Linked DNA regions of Homo sapiens. The protein of the gene in region 4 interacts with the protein of the main gene of each other region in a biochemical or structural test. Each region holds a gene or a part of one and is shown on either strand. Other genes may lie near its edges.

Region 1 (3,852 bases), on a different chromosome or scaffold from region 4:
CCAGCCTAGAGTCAAAGCATAACTTCCCTTTTAAGCAGGGAGGGTTTTAAAAAAATAACATACAAGAAAAGATGATAATTTTTTAGTGACTCTGATGTCACCCTGTATCGCTTTCATCGTGGCCCCCACATGTGTGTGTTGATTGACATAATCTGTTATTCAGCTGTCTTTAAAATGAGGAGGCCTGAGAACCTCATCCCAGCACCTGCAGGCTGGCACCTGCTTTTGCCTCTCGACCAGAGCCTCCCGGGACTTACTCGTTCACCACACAGATACGCAGGGCGTTCCTGATTCTCGTGTGGGGATGTAGTGAGCAGAGGAGACAAAGCAAAGACCTCTGCCCACGGTGACAAGGGAGAGGTTCTTTGCTTCAGATCAGAATGACACATCAGGTTGGGTGGCCGCCTGTCAACAGCTCAAATGCTGTGCATTCTGCTTCATCAAGTGGAAGGATTACTCTTATTACTTAATCAGTGGCATGTTCCTGATGCTGAAAAACCATCCTGACGCACATGCCATGCATGATGAGTGTTAGGTGTCCCCACTGCTGGATGAACACGTCCACTGTTCGAGCACTGCCACAGACCTATTACACGGGCAGGTGTGTGTGCTGCACAGGGGGAGCAGGCCAGTCCACGGGGTGCTCATGAGAAGTCAGTGAGATGACATACGGGAGGCATCCGGCCCAAGGGGGGCTCAGGGCTTGCGGGTGTTGAGGGCCAGAAGGAAGTTCTATATCACCCTGCTGAGAGCCTGTAGCTCCCTGTAGCCTTCCCCTTCCCCAGCTTTGTCCACTGGCTCGATTCTCTCCCCACTGAGATTTTGCGTTTTCACTTTTAAATATTTAATGTTTTGCTAATTATAAAAGTCATATGTGTTCATTGGGAACATTTGGAAAACTGAGGTTTTATGAAGTGTCCAATGATGTCCTGCCCTGGCCCCAGGTGGCCTTCCTAAACAGACTCCCTTCTTCTCCATTTTAGGAAGATCCTAGTACCTCCCCCTCTCCGGGGACCCGAGCAGCCAGCCAGCCACCTAACTCCTCAGGTGAGAGGGCGCCCCCCGCTGACCCCAGTGAGGCATGAGGTCTCAGAGTGGGAGGGGGGACCCTTCGGACAGGACCCTCTGATCCAGCCTCTTTAGTATGCCTGAGCAGAGGGCCAGGCCACAGGGAAGCCCATTTCTTATGGGTCCCCCAGAGCCTCCCCCAGGAGCCCATGTGGGAGCACAGGAAGTGCTAGAGCAGAGCCACTGTGATGGGTCCCCAGGGTGACCTGCGTGTCACCTTCCCACCAGGACCCTGAGTCCCGCACGAGAGAAGGCACTTGCCTGACGGCACATATTCAGGGTGGGAGTTTGTGTCCAGGGCTCCTGAGGCAGGCTGGGGCCAGTGCTCTTAAGAGGTATCAGTGTCAGGACTCATGTCTCCCAGTGAAACGCCAGCTGATGACCGACATTACAGAGATGGCAGTAGATCTCGCTCCACCCAAAACGCAGCCCCTTCCCTGGCTCAGGTTTCTCTCTGTCTAAGCTGTGGCAGATGGGAGGTAGTTAGGAGAGTATGATGAGGCTTCGCAGGGGAGGAAGACCCCAGGGTTGGTTGTTCATTCGACAAACATCTTTGCAGCACCTGCTCTGTGCCAGGCCTGTGCTCATGAGCACAGCGAGGAGAGACAGGGGCATCAGGCTGCCCTAGCTGGGCAGAGGAGGCTCTTGCCAGCTGTTCGCGTGTGTCTCTGGGGCATGCTCAGGTTGGGTGTCGCCTCCCTGTGAAACTGCACGCCATGTCCTCTCCTCCTAAGATTTTTGCCTGGTGTCTTGATTTGCCAGGATGCATAGGTTCCTGGCTGATGAACGTGATCAATACCCCTGCCCTGTTTGCTTCTTCCAACAGCCCAGTGAGTGGGCTACGTGGTTCCCATCTGTGTGCAAAGTGGTTTGCTCAAGGCCACACACCTGGGACATGTCTGTAGCCCCAGGTCTAGTGCCTGCAGGCCCAGCGCCTGTCCCAGAAGGTGGCTTTGAGGAAAACTGCCTCAATCCCACCGTTGGTCCGCAGGGTGCCAAGGCTTAGCTCTGGGCCAGGCAGCTGCCCCACTACCCCCTAGAGATTTTGTCTTCTGCCTCTGCTTGTCCTGCACAGTCAACGAATTCAAGTTAATGCAACAAATCTTTTGGAGTAGAACAAAATATAATCCAATACCACTTAAAAAAGACAAGCCAGCCAGAATGGGACAGAGCCAGGCGCAGCATGGGAGGCAGACTAAGGAGCCCCTCAGTAGCAGGTGCCGGGCCGAGGGGCCTGGCCGCCACACCACACGTGGGAGCAAGGCTGTGCTGGGATGTCCGGGGAGGTCGTGCTTGCTCGCCCTGTGGCTCTAGTCACTGGGTCCCTTACCAGCAGGCTCACATTCCAGAGAGACCTGGCACAGTGAAGGGCTCAGAACCAGATCACAGGTCAGGGTCAACCTGACCTAGGCCATGGGGGACTGAGAACAAGGTGCCAGGTTTTGGCTTAACTCAATCAGACCTTCCTGCCACGGGGCTCTGCACCCTTGGCATGGGTGAGGGCTTCCTGTTGGGGTGTTTAGGGGATTGGGGTGGCTACTGAGTCCCTTCACCTGTGAGGTTCTTCATCCATGAAATGAACTGACAGAGGCTGGCCGGAAGCCCTGGGAGCGGAGCAACTCGGTGGAGAAGCCTGTGTCCTCGATTCTGTCCAGGTGAGCTGCCCCAGGAAGGCCTGAGCAGCGAGGCTGGTGGGGCAGAGGCGGGCGCTGGCGCCGATTCACATGTCTGTTTCATTCCATTGCCGTAGAACCCCGTCTGTGGCAAAGAGCCCCGAAGCTAAGAGCCCCCTTCAGTCGCAGCCTCACTCTAGGTACCGAACAACCCTCCTGCTCACATGTCCCCCAGGGTTTGGGGCTCCTCTGTCCCCCGTCCCGTGACTAACACCCTTGCACGCTGTCTCACGTCCTGGCATTTAACAACTTGCTCTGCGAAGGTGGTCTGTTCTTTCAGACCCAGGACCTCGGGGTCCTGTCAGTCAGCTGCTCCGTCTTTTCCCTCTGAGAGAGAGACCAAGGGCAAGGAGGGCAGTGACCTGTCCACAGAGGTAGTGCAGGGGGGGGCCAACATGGAGTCCCAGCTCTGGACTCACTACGTGTGACAGTGGGCAAGTTAGGGGACCTCTCCAAGCCTCTGTTTTCCCCCCACAAAGTGAGGTCTGTTAACCCCTGCTGCACAGGGTGGTGGTGGGGACAGCTGTGAGCAACAGCTGGACATGGGGTGTGGTCACTAGCCAGGGCTGCACCCTACAGTTCAACCAGTCCTAGCACTGGCGCTGAGCCCTACCCCTTTCCTCCAGCCCAGAGTCCTTCCTCTGCGGCCGGCACACAGAATCAGTTTCCCCACAGACATACTGACCATATTTCCCAAGCCAAAAGCTGGCATGACAACATGATAGAATATTTGGAACTGAGATTGCCCAAAAAGGCAGAGGCAGCCAGCCACATAGTATCTGGAGGTACATGTGGCCTGAATTGGAAGGCCTCTAGAACCTGCGTCAAGAATGTCTCCATCGCCACCACAAATTGAAGGGAAACCACCCTTATCACAGAGCAGGAGGCATTGAAACTGGCCTTGCAGAGCTGAACAGGTGGTGAGAGCAGAGCAGTGCAGGTGGACAGAGATGAGGAAGTCTTAGCAGTCAGCTGGGGTTTGTCCAAGGCTTGTGGTCAGCCAGGCCGTGTGCTGGGGACAGTCCCTGCCTGCAAAGAGCACCGTGTGAACAAGGCCACTGTGGTCCTGAGGGGTGCTCTGGACAGGGTGCAGGGCCACATGGTGGAAGGG
Region 2 (3,852 bases), on a different chromosome or scaffold from region 4:
GCCACCATGCCTAGCTTTGATATGTGACTTTTTATTCTGGTTTGTTTCTTCTTTTCTGCCTTGCTTCCCTGTTCCTCTTCCCCTCCCTCCCCTCCCCCCCTCCCCATCCCCGTCTCCCTCTCCAGGGTTCTCGCTATGTTGCTCAGGCTGGTCTTGAACTCTTGGGCTTAAGTGATTCTCCCTCTTTGGCCTAAAGTTCTGGGATTATAGGTGTGAGCCACTATGCCTGGCCTGGCTTCTTTGTTTTAGCATGTTTTCAAGGTTCATTCATGCTGTAGCATGTATCAGTACTATATTCCTTTTAATGGCTGAATTCTGTTCCATTATATGGGTAGAATATATTTTGTTTTCCATTTATCAGTTGATATTTAGTTTGTCCCCATATTTTGGCTACTATTAATAATGTTGCTGTGAACATTCATGTGTGTTTTTGTATGGACATATGTTTTCAGCTCCCTTGGATATATACCTAGGAGTGGAATTGCTGGGTCTAGTATGCAACTATATGTTTTACTTTTTGAGGAACTGCCAAACTGTTTTCAGCAGTGGCCCTACCATCTTACATTCCTAGCAGCAACATATGAGGGTTTCAGTTTTTCCATATTCTGGTCAACACTTGTAATTATCCGTATTTTTGGTTATAATCCTAGTGGGTGTGAAGTGGTATCTCACTGTGGTTTCAACTTGCTCTTTCCTGATGGCTAATGATGCCAAGCATTTTTTTATGTACTTATTGGCCATTAGTACATCTTCTTTGGAAAAATGAAGTTCTTTAGATCTTTTGCCCATTTTTAAATTGGGTTAGTTGTCTTTTTATTGTTGAGTGGTAATATGTCTTTTATTCTGGGTATTAGACCTTTATCATATATATGATTTGCATGGATTTTCTCCTATCTTTGAGTTGTCTTTTCACTTTCTTGGTTTTATTCTTTGCAGCGTAAAGTTTTTAATTTTGGTAAATTAAGTTCATCTGTTTTTTCTTTTGTTGCTTGTAATTTATCTAAGAAACCATTACCTAATCCAGGGTCACAAAGGTTTACGCTTGTGGTTTAAGAGTTTTAAGGCTGGGCACAATGGCTCACACCTGTAATCTCAGCATTTTGGGAGGCCAAGGTGGGCAGATTGCTTGAGCTCAGGAGCTGGAGACCAGCCTGGGCAACATGGCGAAACCCCATCTCTACAAAAAATATAAAAAATTAGTAGGGCGTGGTGGCACATGCCTGTAGTCCCAGCTACTCAGGAGGCTGAGCAGGGAGAATCACTTGAGCCTGGGAGGTCAAGGCTGCAGTAAGCTGTGATCACGTGACTGTACTCCAGTCTGGGTGACAGAGTGAGACCCTGTCTCAAAAAAAAAAAAAAAAAAGTTTTATGGTTTTATTTATAGTTTTAGCTCTTACATTTAAATCTTTCATCATTTTGAATAATTTTTTATGGGTGTTTGTCCCAGACCATTAGTTGAAAAGACTGTCCTTTTCTCACTGAATTGTTCTGGTATCCTTGTCAAAAAATTGACTATAGATATAAGGGTTTTTTCTTGGCTCTCAATTTTATGCCATTGATCTATCTATATGTCCATATGCCATGGAATGTCTTTTTAAGAATTATTAATTTGTGGGATTTTTAAAAATATTGTCTTCATTTTCCTTGTCTGTTACATGTTATGAATATTTCCTCCAGTATGTCTTAACTTTTGTTTATGGCATCTTTTACTATACAGACGTTTTATGTTTTTATTAAGTCAAATTTATCCACCTCTTTTTTTTATGGTTTCTAGGTTAAAATCATGCTTTGCAATAGGGCATCCCAAGGCCAAAATTAGGGGAAAAAAATTCTCCCTTGAGGGGAAAATATTGAGAATTTTTTTTTTTTTTTTTTTGATGTGGAGCCTTGTCCTGTCATGCAGGCTGGAGTGCAGTGGTACTTCCGGCTCACTGCAACATCCGCCTCCCAGGTTCAAGCACTTCTCCTGCCTCAGCCTCCCGAGTAGTTGGGATTACATGCAACTGTCACCACACCCGGCTAATTTTTTATATTTTTAGTAGAGATAGGGTTTCATCATGTTGGCCAGGCTGGTCTTGAACTCCTGACCTCGTGATCTGCCCGGCTTGACCTCCCAAAGTGTTGGGATTACAGGAGTGAGCCACTGCACCTGGCCAAAAAAATTTTAATGTTAGCTCTTTAATTCATCTGCAAGTGATTTTTTTTTTTTTTTTTTGAGATGGCGTCTCACTCTGTTGCCCAGGCTGGAGTACAGTGGCGAGATCTAGGTTCACTGCAGCCTCCGCGTCCTGGGTTCAAGCGATTCTCCTGCCTCACCCTCCCGAGTAGCTGGGATTACAGGCATGCGCCACCACGCCTGGCTAATTTTTTTGTATTTTTAGTAGAAATGGCGTTCACCATGTTGGTCAGGCTGGTCTCGAACTCCTGAACTCAAATGATCCTCCTGCTTTGGCCTCCCAAAGTGTTGGGATTATAGGCATGAGCCACCATGCCCAGCCTGGAATTGATTTTAATGTATAGCATGAGGTTTGCTGTAGAATTTTATCTGTTTATGAAATGATCTATGTGAAGATAATTTTATTTCTTCATAGTTACAGTCACAAGAAAAATACTGTAAATGTGCAGCTTCTGCAAATACACATTTGTGAATGTGATATGTAGTCATGAAGTTTGGCTTTGAAAGTTTACATTATGCAAGTAACAGTATTTTTTCTGAGGATTGGCTGGCTGATAGTTTGTTTCACAATCTGAGCAGAATAAAATAATTTTTGGTCTCACAAATCAGTTTGACTAACTCAGGTTCTTACTCATTTTACTCATGTGAGAGAAACCAGATTCCATGTGGTGATTTTTTTTTTTTTTTTTTTTTTGAGATGGAGTACTGTTCTGTTTCCCAGGCTGGAGTGCAGTGGCGTGTTCTTGGCTCACTGCAACCTACACCTCCTGGGTTCAAGCAATTCTTCTGCCTCAGCCTCCTGAGTAGCTGGGACTACAGGTGTGTGCCACCATGCCTGGCTAATTTTTGTATTTTTAGTAGAGACGGGGTTTCACTATACTGGCCAGGCTGGTCTTGAACTCCTGACCTTGTGATCCGCCTGCCTTGGTCTCCCAAATTGCTGGGATTACAGGCATGAGCCACTGCGCTCAGCCCCATGTGGTGATTTTTTATGGCAGGAATAAATTTCTCAGTCGCTTATTGTATAAAATTGAATTTTATACAATTAATTATTATCTAATTAACTGCTTTTCTCCTAGGCGACCACCTTCAGTGACACTTCACTTGGGGGGACAGACTTTTTGTTTTGAGTTGCTATTGGGATAAATAAAAGATGCGATAGTTCATCTTTTATTTTGACAATAGAATGGCAAATGAAGGAATGCATTTACTTAGACTTTTACTTATACTGATAATTTTAACACTCAAGACTGATTAACTTTGTTTTACTCGGTTTCTTTTGTAATGGGTATACAGTAACTTTGAGGATGATTACACTGTTTTAAGAAAACCTGTTAAGAATGCTAAAAAGAATATTGTGGTGGAAAAATACAGGTTACAAGGTTTATGTTTCTATTTGCACTATATGTGTAATTAAATAGTTTGGTTCAAGTAAAGCAAATGATTTATACAAAGAGGGATAATTTTTTTCTTTTTTATCTCCTTAGGATAGCAGTGAGATTCACTTCAAAGTGAAAATGACAACACATCTCAAGAAACTCAAAGAATCATACTGTCAAAGACAGGTTCGTCCATTTTGGTATTAAGTACAATGCTTTGTCGTTAATTTTTTTTTTTTTATAGAAGATTGTCAGAAGAAAAATCCTGTTTTATTATTTTCACCATTAGCAACTCAA
Region 3 (2,645 bases), on a different chromosome or scaffold from region 4:
TCTTTGTTGATTTTTCCACTCAGCAGCCTCATGATTATTAGTGTTTTTGTTTTGTACTTGGTGGCCTCAATTTTTTTCTTTTGGTTTTTTAAATTCTAGCAAAGAATTTTTCATCTTTTCTAAGAATTTAGCTGATAGAAGAGCATTTCATCATCTTGTTTGTGATTGTAAACAATTTATACATGCAGTTAGTGACCAGCCACCTCCCATTAGGAAAGCCAATAGACACAAACCTGAAGGACAGATTTGGTATACTTGTTACTTAAATTGTAGGTTGAACTTTGGGGTTTTTTTGTTCATTGTTTTTGTTGCTGCTGTTAAAGTGAATATTCTACAGAGTAGAAAACTAAGGTTTAAGAAAGTTGTAAAATTACTTTTATTTTAAATAAATTATAAAATTTTAACATGAGATAAAATTCAAAGACAGTTACCACATTCCCTCAAGATTGGCAGCAAGAGTTTTTGTATGAAACATTTGAGTTTTCTGTGATCATCAGAATCTTTTAGCTTTTCCTTTCAGCCTTGACTCTTATTTTAATGTATACTACATTACATTTGTATAACTTTCTCTCATTTAGCTCTCAAAACAATGGAGATAAGTTGTTATAAATGAAGGGCAGATACTATAATCTCCAGTTTCCTGAGGGGCAGGGGAAGGGCCCAAAGGAAGCAAATTAGTTAGCAAAGGAAGGGCCAGAGTCAGAGTCTTGCACTGGAGTCTTGACTCCTAATCCAGGGTTTATACCACCACCCCATAGCAGAAGACAAGGATGATTCATTTGAACAATCTGTGGCCTTGATATAATTTATGGAAATTAGCTCACTATTTGTATTCTAAATAACTAAAAATTTTAGGAAAGCAAAGGAGTTTTGAGAAATGAATGCTAAATACTATACATTATTCCGGTCATGTGTTTGCATTGGAATAGTGTAGTGGTGTCTAAGCCAAATTTACTTGAGAACAAATGTCTATCTTATTGGATGTAATGATGTAAAGCATATTAATCATACTTTAAGTTTACTCAGTGTTTTATCATGGATTAGCCATCTACTAATTTTGTCATAAACTTTGAATTGTGGCAAATAAGGTTAGAGCAATACATATATGTCAATATGGAAAGCAATCTGTTTATTCTTTCTGCATATACAACAGTAATATAGTAATACCTGTTATGATCATTGTAAAATCCCTAAAGGTTTGATAGTGATGTGTACTTTGCCTGAGGTTAATGAGTCTCAAAACTTATGTTTAAATATTTATTAGGAACAGAACATTCATATAGCATTTGGAAAGTATTTGAAGGATAGCAGTAAGTCCCTCACATTTCTTCCACAAATAGACTTATAAGAAAATTAAGGAAGATAAAATACAAGTTAAATAATGGGAAAAACAAAATTTTATAGTATTATATTGACTCATATCCAATTTTCTTATGTTTTTTTTTCAGAGACAAAAGTAAAACTATTCAGTGGTATTGTAAATTGATGTCTCAGGCATAGCTCATTTATTTGTTTATTTATTGTATTGTTTCTAAAAGAATGTTTATTATAAAGAATACCTAGTGATGTTCTTTCTGTTTTATCTTAGAGCTGAACTAGAGAAACATGGTTATAAGATGGAGACTTCATAGCATCCAGAAGAAGTGTTGAAGTAACCTAAACTTGACCTGCTTAATACATTCTAGGGCAGAGAACCCAGGATGGGACACTAAAAAAATGTGTTTATTTCATTATCTGCTTGGATTTATTTGTGTTTTTGTAACACAAAAAATAAATGTTTTGATATAATCTTGGTTTGGTTCAGAAGTCTTAATCTTTTGCTTCTAATCAATTTTCTTGTCATGATTTTCCAAAACCTTATTATATATAGATAGTAAAATTTCATATTATGAAATTTTCTTTTTTTTTTTTAATGTTAACTGAGTGAGGCTCAGGTTAAATGATCTGGAGTAGATTTCACCTGATTCCCAATTCAGTACTTTTCTTAAACCACATCAATTAATTGTTACTTCTATTTTATAAGGAATTTCTTTTACATCACATTGAACCTTAATCTCTTCTGTATTTTGATAGCTTAGGCAACATTTGCTGACATTTATAAGGTGACCTTTCAAAACCTGTGTTTTAAAAATATTAATCATTTTAAATTGCTGTAATTTACTTAGTTCCTGAGCCATTAATAATATTATTAATGGTTGTTAGCGTATTATTGGTACTTAAAGTCCAAAGTAGTTTAATCACAGTAAGAATGGTGTCTTCTATTAAAATTGAGGAAGTGGGCTCAAGATACTTTATCAACAAGTGCATATTTTCAGGTACTACATAGCAGGCTCATTTAGTACAACTGAGTTTTCACAGAGTGATAGCTGTTGCCACATCACTTTTGTGAATGGGAGATTTAATTTGGTTTGTAAAGGATTCTTTGTGATGACTTAAATGTACGGGGTATTTTTTAGGAATATTTTCAAATGTAAATGTTGTTACTAAGAACTACAATCAATCTGTAGTGTTGAGTAATTTCAAATGTAAAATTTATGTAACAATGCAGTGCAGATACCAAAATAGGGGTTGGTGGCCTGAAATACAAGTTATACTTCAAAATGATTTTGAGCATAAATATGTTTCTGTTTTTAAGACAAGCATAA
Region 4 (4,206 bases):
ATCCCAGCTACTTGGGAGGCTGAGGCAGAGAATTGCTTGAACCTGGGAAGTGGAGGTTGCAGTGAGCTGAGATCGTGCCACTGCACTCCAGCCTGGGCAACAGAGTAAGATTCTGTCTCAAAAAAAAACCAAAAACCAAAAAACCACAAAACAAAAAAATCACATACCCTTTGACAGAAAATTTGTCTTACAGAACATTTCACATATATGCAAAGATAAATGTACAAATAATTTATACCAAAGCATAATTAAAATGGTAAAAGTTAGAAACATACTGCATCACTATAAAATGAGAAGTGTTAAATTATGCTCCTAAGCAGTTATTAAGAAGAGCTAACCTGATGGTATCCCAATCCAGTAACAGAAGATGGCTATGATGGCACTGGGAGGGCAAGGTAGAAAGGGCCAAATAAGCTGGAGAACAGAGCATGCAATCCATCCCCATGATCTTACCCTGGGAGCTTGTCCACTATCCTGTTGTCAGTCTACCTACCTATTCCCAATCATCTGTGGCCTTTCCTTTGCCAAGGAAGTCTATTCAATTGGAAAAGAATCCCCTGTCATGTTAGCACTTAATATTACCTGGAGGTAGGAGAAAGGAGAACTTCGTTCATCTTATTTCCTGGGGACTTAGTCCCCAGAGTGTTAATATTTCCTCCTCTCCAAGAAACTGAGGCAGATTCTGCTCTCTGTCCTCTTGGCCACTGGTTCCAAGTCTTTCTTTAGGCATGACCCTCTTTTGTTGTATATGTGTCCTTTGCTCCTTCCATGGATTCCCATGATGTGAGAGATTTTATCTGCCAAATAGTAACGTAATTTTTCCCTTCCAAATTAACAAAGCCTTCCGTAACTGTATACACTAAAGTCAGTGCCCTAAAGGTTGGGAAAATCATGTCTTCAGAGTGTACCGTGCTAAACGCTTTACATGAATTATTTTATTTAGTTTTTAAAACAATCCCATAAGGTCGGTTTTATTTACATTTTACAGAAAAGGAAACAATATTCTCAGTCACATAGTAAGTGGAAGAACCACTTATATAAAAGAAGTATATGAAAATGCATAGAAAATAATCTGGGAAATTATTTCTGGGAGATGGAGAGTGGTGAAGAGCTTTCAGTTTTTTCTCCGCCACTTCCTCTTTTTTTTTTTAGACAAAGTCTCACTCTGTCACCCAAACTGGAGTGCAGTGGCATGATATCGCTCACTGCACCCTCCGCCTCCCAGGTTCAAGTGATTCTTGTGCCCCAGCCTCCCGAGTAGCTGGGATTACAGGTGTGCACCACCACGCCCCACTAATTTTTGTATTTTTAGTAGAGACAGGGTTTCACCATTTTGGCCAGGCTGGTCTCGAACTCCTGACCTCAGGTGATCCACTCGCTGGGATTACAGGTGTGAGCCCCCATGCCTGGCCTCTCTACTTCTTTTTTTTTTTTTTTTTTTTTGAGATGGAATCTCGCTCTGTCACCCAGGCTGGAGTGTAGTGGCACGATCTCGGCTCACTGCAAGCTCTGCCTCCCAGGTTCACGCCATTCTCCTGCCTCAGCCTCCCAAGTAGTTGGGACTACAGGTGGCCGCCACCACGCCCGGCTAATTTTTTGTATTTTTAGTAGAGACAAGGTTTTACCATGTTAGCCAGGATGGTCTCGGTCTCCTGACCTCAGGTGATCCACCTGCTTCGGCCTCCCAAAGTGCTGGGATTACAGGCGTTAGCCACTGCGCCTGGCCTCCGGCCCTCTACTTTTATATTGTTTAGATTTTTAATATAAGCATATAGTTGTTTTGTAATTTCAAAAAAAAATTCTCAAAGATAAGAAAGAAAATTTGGGCTGGGTGCAGTGGCTCACGCCTCCCAGCACTTTGGGAGGCCAAGGTGGGTGAATCACCTTAGGTCAGGAGTTAAAGACCAGCCTGACCAACGTGGAGAAACCCCATTTTTACTAAAAAATGCAAAATTAGCCGGGCGTGGTGGTGCATGCCTGAAATCCCAGCTACTTGGGAGGCTGAGGGAGGAGAATCCCTTGAACCCGGGAGGCAGAGGTTGTGGTGAGGCAAGATCATGCCATTGCACTCCAGCCTGGGCAACAAGAGCGAAACTCCGTCTCAGAAAAAAAAGAAAGAAAAAATTTGGTTCTCCTAGGCCTTTAACATAAAATGTTCTAAAGGATTTTCCTCATAATTTAAATGGGAATTATGACTCCAAAGTAGATTTCTAGAGTAGAAATTACCCTTTAGCATCATTCACTTAAACTTTGTAGAAAAATTCAAAGGTATCTGGTATGGAATGGGTAGTCTAAAGCAGAGATTTCCTTGAGTGGCTCATAAGACAGTTTTCATGGCATTTCATTTACTTCTCTTTTCTTTCCTTTTTGTTTTCTCTTTAAAATTCTTTCTACTTATTTTTCTGTTTTCTCCAATTGTTCATTTTAAACATCTTGTTTATACTATTGGAGTAAATATGTTTTTTTCTTCTTTCTTGCTCACACTCGAAATTTGCTATAGACACTCCGAGGGCATTGACTAGTCCCTTTAGTACCCCTAAAGAATGAACTGCTCAATAAAGTGAAGTATAAGTTTGATATAGACATGCTAAAATTAACTGGGCTTTGGATCATGGCCCATTATTGATTAAAGCTAAGGTAAATGGTCTTCCAAGTTTCTGTACTTTTGAATTGATCAGTCTTGTGTTGGTATGCAGTTCTAGAATTTTATTACTGGCCAGGTGTGGTGGCTCACGCCTGTAATCCCAGCACTTTAAGAGGCCGAGGCGGGCAGATCACTTGAGTCCAGGAGTTCAAGACCAGCCTGGGCAATGTGGCAAAACCCTATCTATAAAAAAATTTAATCGGGTGTGGTGGTGCACACCTATGGTCTCAGCTATTTGGGAGGTGAGATGGGAGGATCTCCAGAGCCCGGAAGGCAGAGGTTGCAGTGAGCCAAGATTGCACCACTGCACTCCAGCCTGGGCGGCGGAGTGAGACCCTGTCTCCAAAACAAAAAAAGGCCAGGTGCAGTGGCTCGTGCCTATAATCCCAACACTTTGGGAGGCCAAGGCAGGCAGATCACCTGAGGTCAGGAGTTCAAGACCAGCCTAGCCAACTTGGTGAAACCCTGTTTCTACTAAAAATACAAAAATTAGCTGGGCGTGGTGGCATGGACCTTTAATCTCAACAACTCAGGAGGCTGAGGCAGGAGAGTTGCTTGAACCCAGGAGGTGGAGGTTGCAGTGAACCGAGATAACGCCACTGCACTCCAGCCTGGGCAACAGTGAGACTATCGCAAGAAAAAAAAAAAAAAGAAGAAAAGAATTTTATTACCTACTTTGGGCTATATTTCTAAGCAGTCCAGTTCTGACAGGACTAGCTGTATGTACTGAGACACAATCAGCTTTACATATTTTTCTAGCTGTATTTCTATTAATATCAGAAGGGAATGCCTCCTTCCTACCACTGTCATTTTTAAATGTTTTTTTCCCTTTGCCTTGGAGGAATTATAAAGATGTCATGAGGAGCTTGGTCAGCTGTATCAGAAATACAATGTTCATTTCTACTGTTGTTTTTGTTCTCTATAGCTTCCCATTGACCGGGGTGGAGGTGAAGGAAAGGCCATGTACATTGACACTGAGGGTACCTTTAGGCCAGAACGGCTGCTGGCAGTGGCTGAGAGGTAGGTTACTGGTTTAGATAAGAGAGACTATGGCTACACTTATCAATGTAGTGATTGCCAGGGTTAGTTTGGCCGAAGAATGTCTCTTCTATAACCCCACGTCCCAAAGTTGTATGTGTGGTTCAAAAGAATGACTTCCTTAGTAGAAAAAGGCATTCTTTTTTTTTTTTTTCTTCAGATGGAGTCTCGCTCTTGTCACCCAGGCTAGAGTGCGGTGGCGTGATCTCAGGTCACTGCAACCTCTGCCTCCCGGGTTCAAGCAACTCTCCCACCTCAGCCTTCCTAGTAGCTGGGATTACAGGCGCACACCACCACACCCAGCTAATTTTTTGTATTTTTAGTAGAGATGGGGTTTCACCATATTGGCCAGGCTGGTCTCAGACTCCTGACCTCAGGTGATCCACCTGCCTTGACTTCCCAAAGTGCTGGGATTACAGGTGTGAGCCACCGCACCCGGCCAGAAAAAGGCATTCTTTAGAGTTGCTGTCAGACTGGATTTAAAAAAAAAAAATCCAACTATATGTTTTCTTCCAGAGAAACCC

Evidence for each region. Proteins that work in one complex are often made in the same cells at the same time.
Region 1: the proteins of RAD51 (region 4) and EVL form a complex in vitro, tested with the Homo sapiens proteins (2 studies listed by BioGRID and IntAct).
Region 2: the proteins of RAD51 (region 4) and SUMO1 form a complex in vitro, tested with the Homo sapiens proteins (2 studies listed by BioGRID and IntAct).
Region 3: the proteins of RAD51 (region 4) and SEM1 form a complex in vitro, tested with the Homo sapiens proteins (2 studies listed by BioGRID).

The regions. Positions count from the first base shown.
Region 1 is NC_000014.9:100,134,922-100,138,773, forward strand, and holds part of EVL (ena/VASP-like protein), read left to right. Parts: exon of another isoform or gene 1-977; intron 978-983; coding exon 984-1,047; intron 1,048-2,656; coding exon 2,657-2,723; intron 2,724-2,818; coding exon 2,819-2,881; exon of another isoform or gene 2,882-3,852. UniProt on the Homo sapiens protein: Ena/VASP proteins are actin-associated proteins involved in a range of processes dependent on cytoskeleton remodeling and cell polarity such as axon guidance and lamellipodial and filopodial dynamics in migrating cells.
Region 2 is NC_000002.12:202,214,246-202,218,097, reverse strand, and holds part of SUMO1 (small ubiquitin-related modifier 1 isoform a precursor), read left to right. Parts: intron 1-3,663; coding exon 3,664-3,741; intron 3,742-3,852. UniProt on the Homo sapiens protein: Ubiquitin-like protein that can be covalently attached to proteins as a monomer or a lysine-linked polymer.
Region 3 is NC_000007.14:96,687,910-96,690,554, reverse strand, and holds the end of SEM1 (26S proteasome complex subunit SEM1), read left to right. Parts: intron 1-1,588; coding exon 1,589-1,631; 3' UTR 1,632-1,793; downstream 1,794-2,645. UniProt on the Homo sapiens protein: Component of the 26S proteasome, a multiprotein complex involved in the ATP-dependent degradation of ubiquitinated proteins.
Region 4 is NC_000015.10:40,715,236-40,719,441, forward strand, and holds part of RAD51 (DNA repair protein RAD51 homolog 1), read left to right. Parts: intron 1-3,569; coding exon 3,570-3,664; intron 3,665-4,206.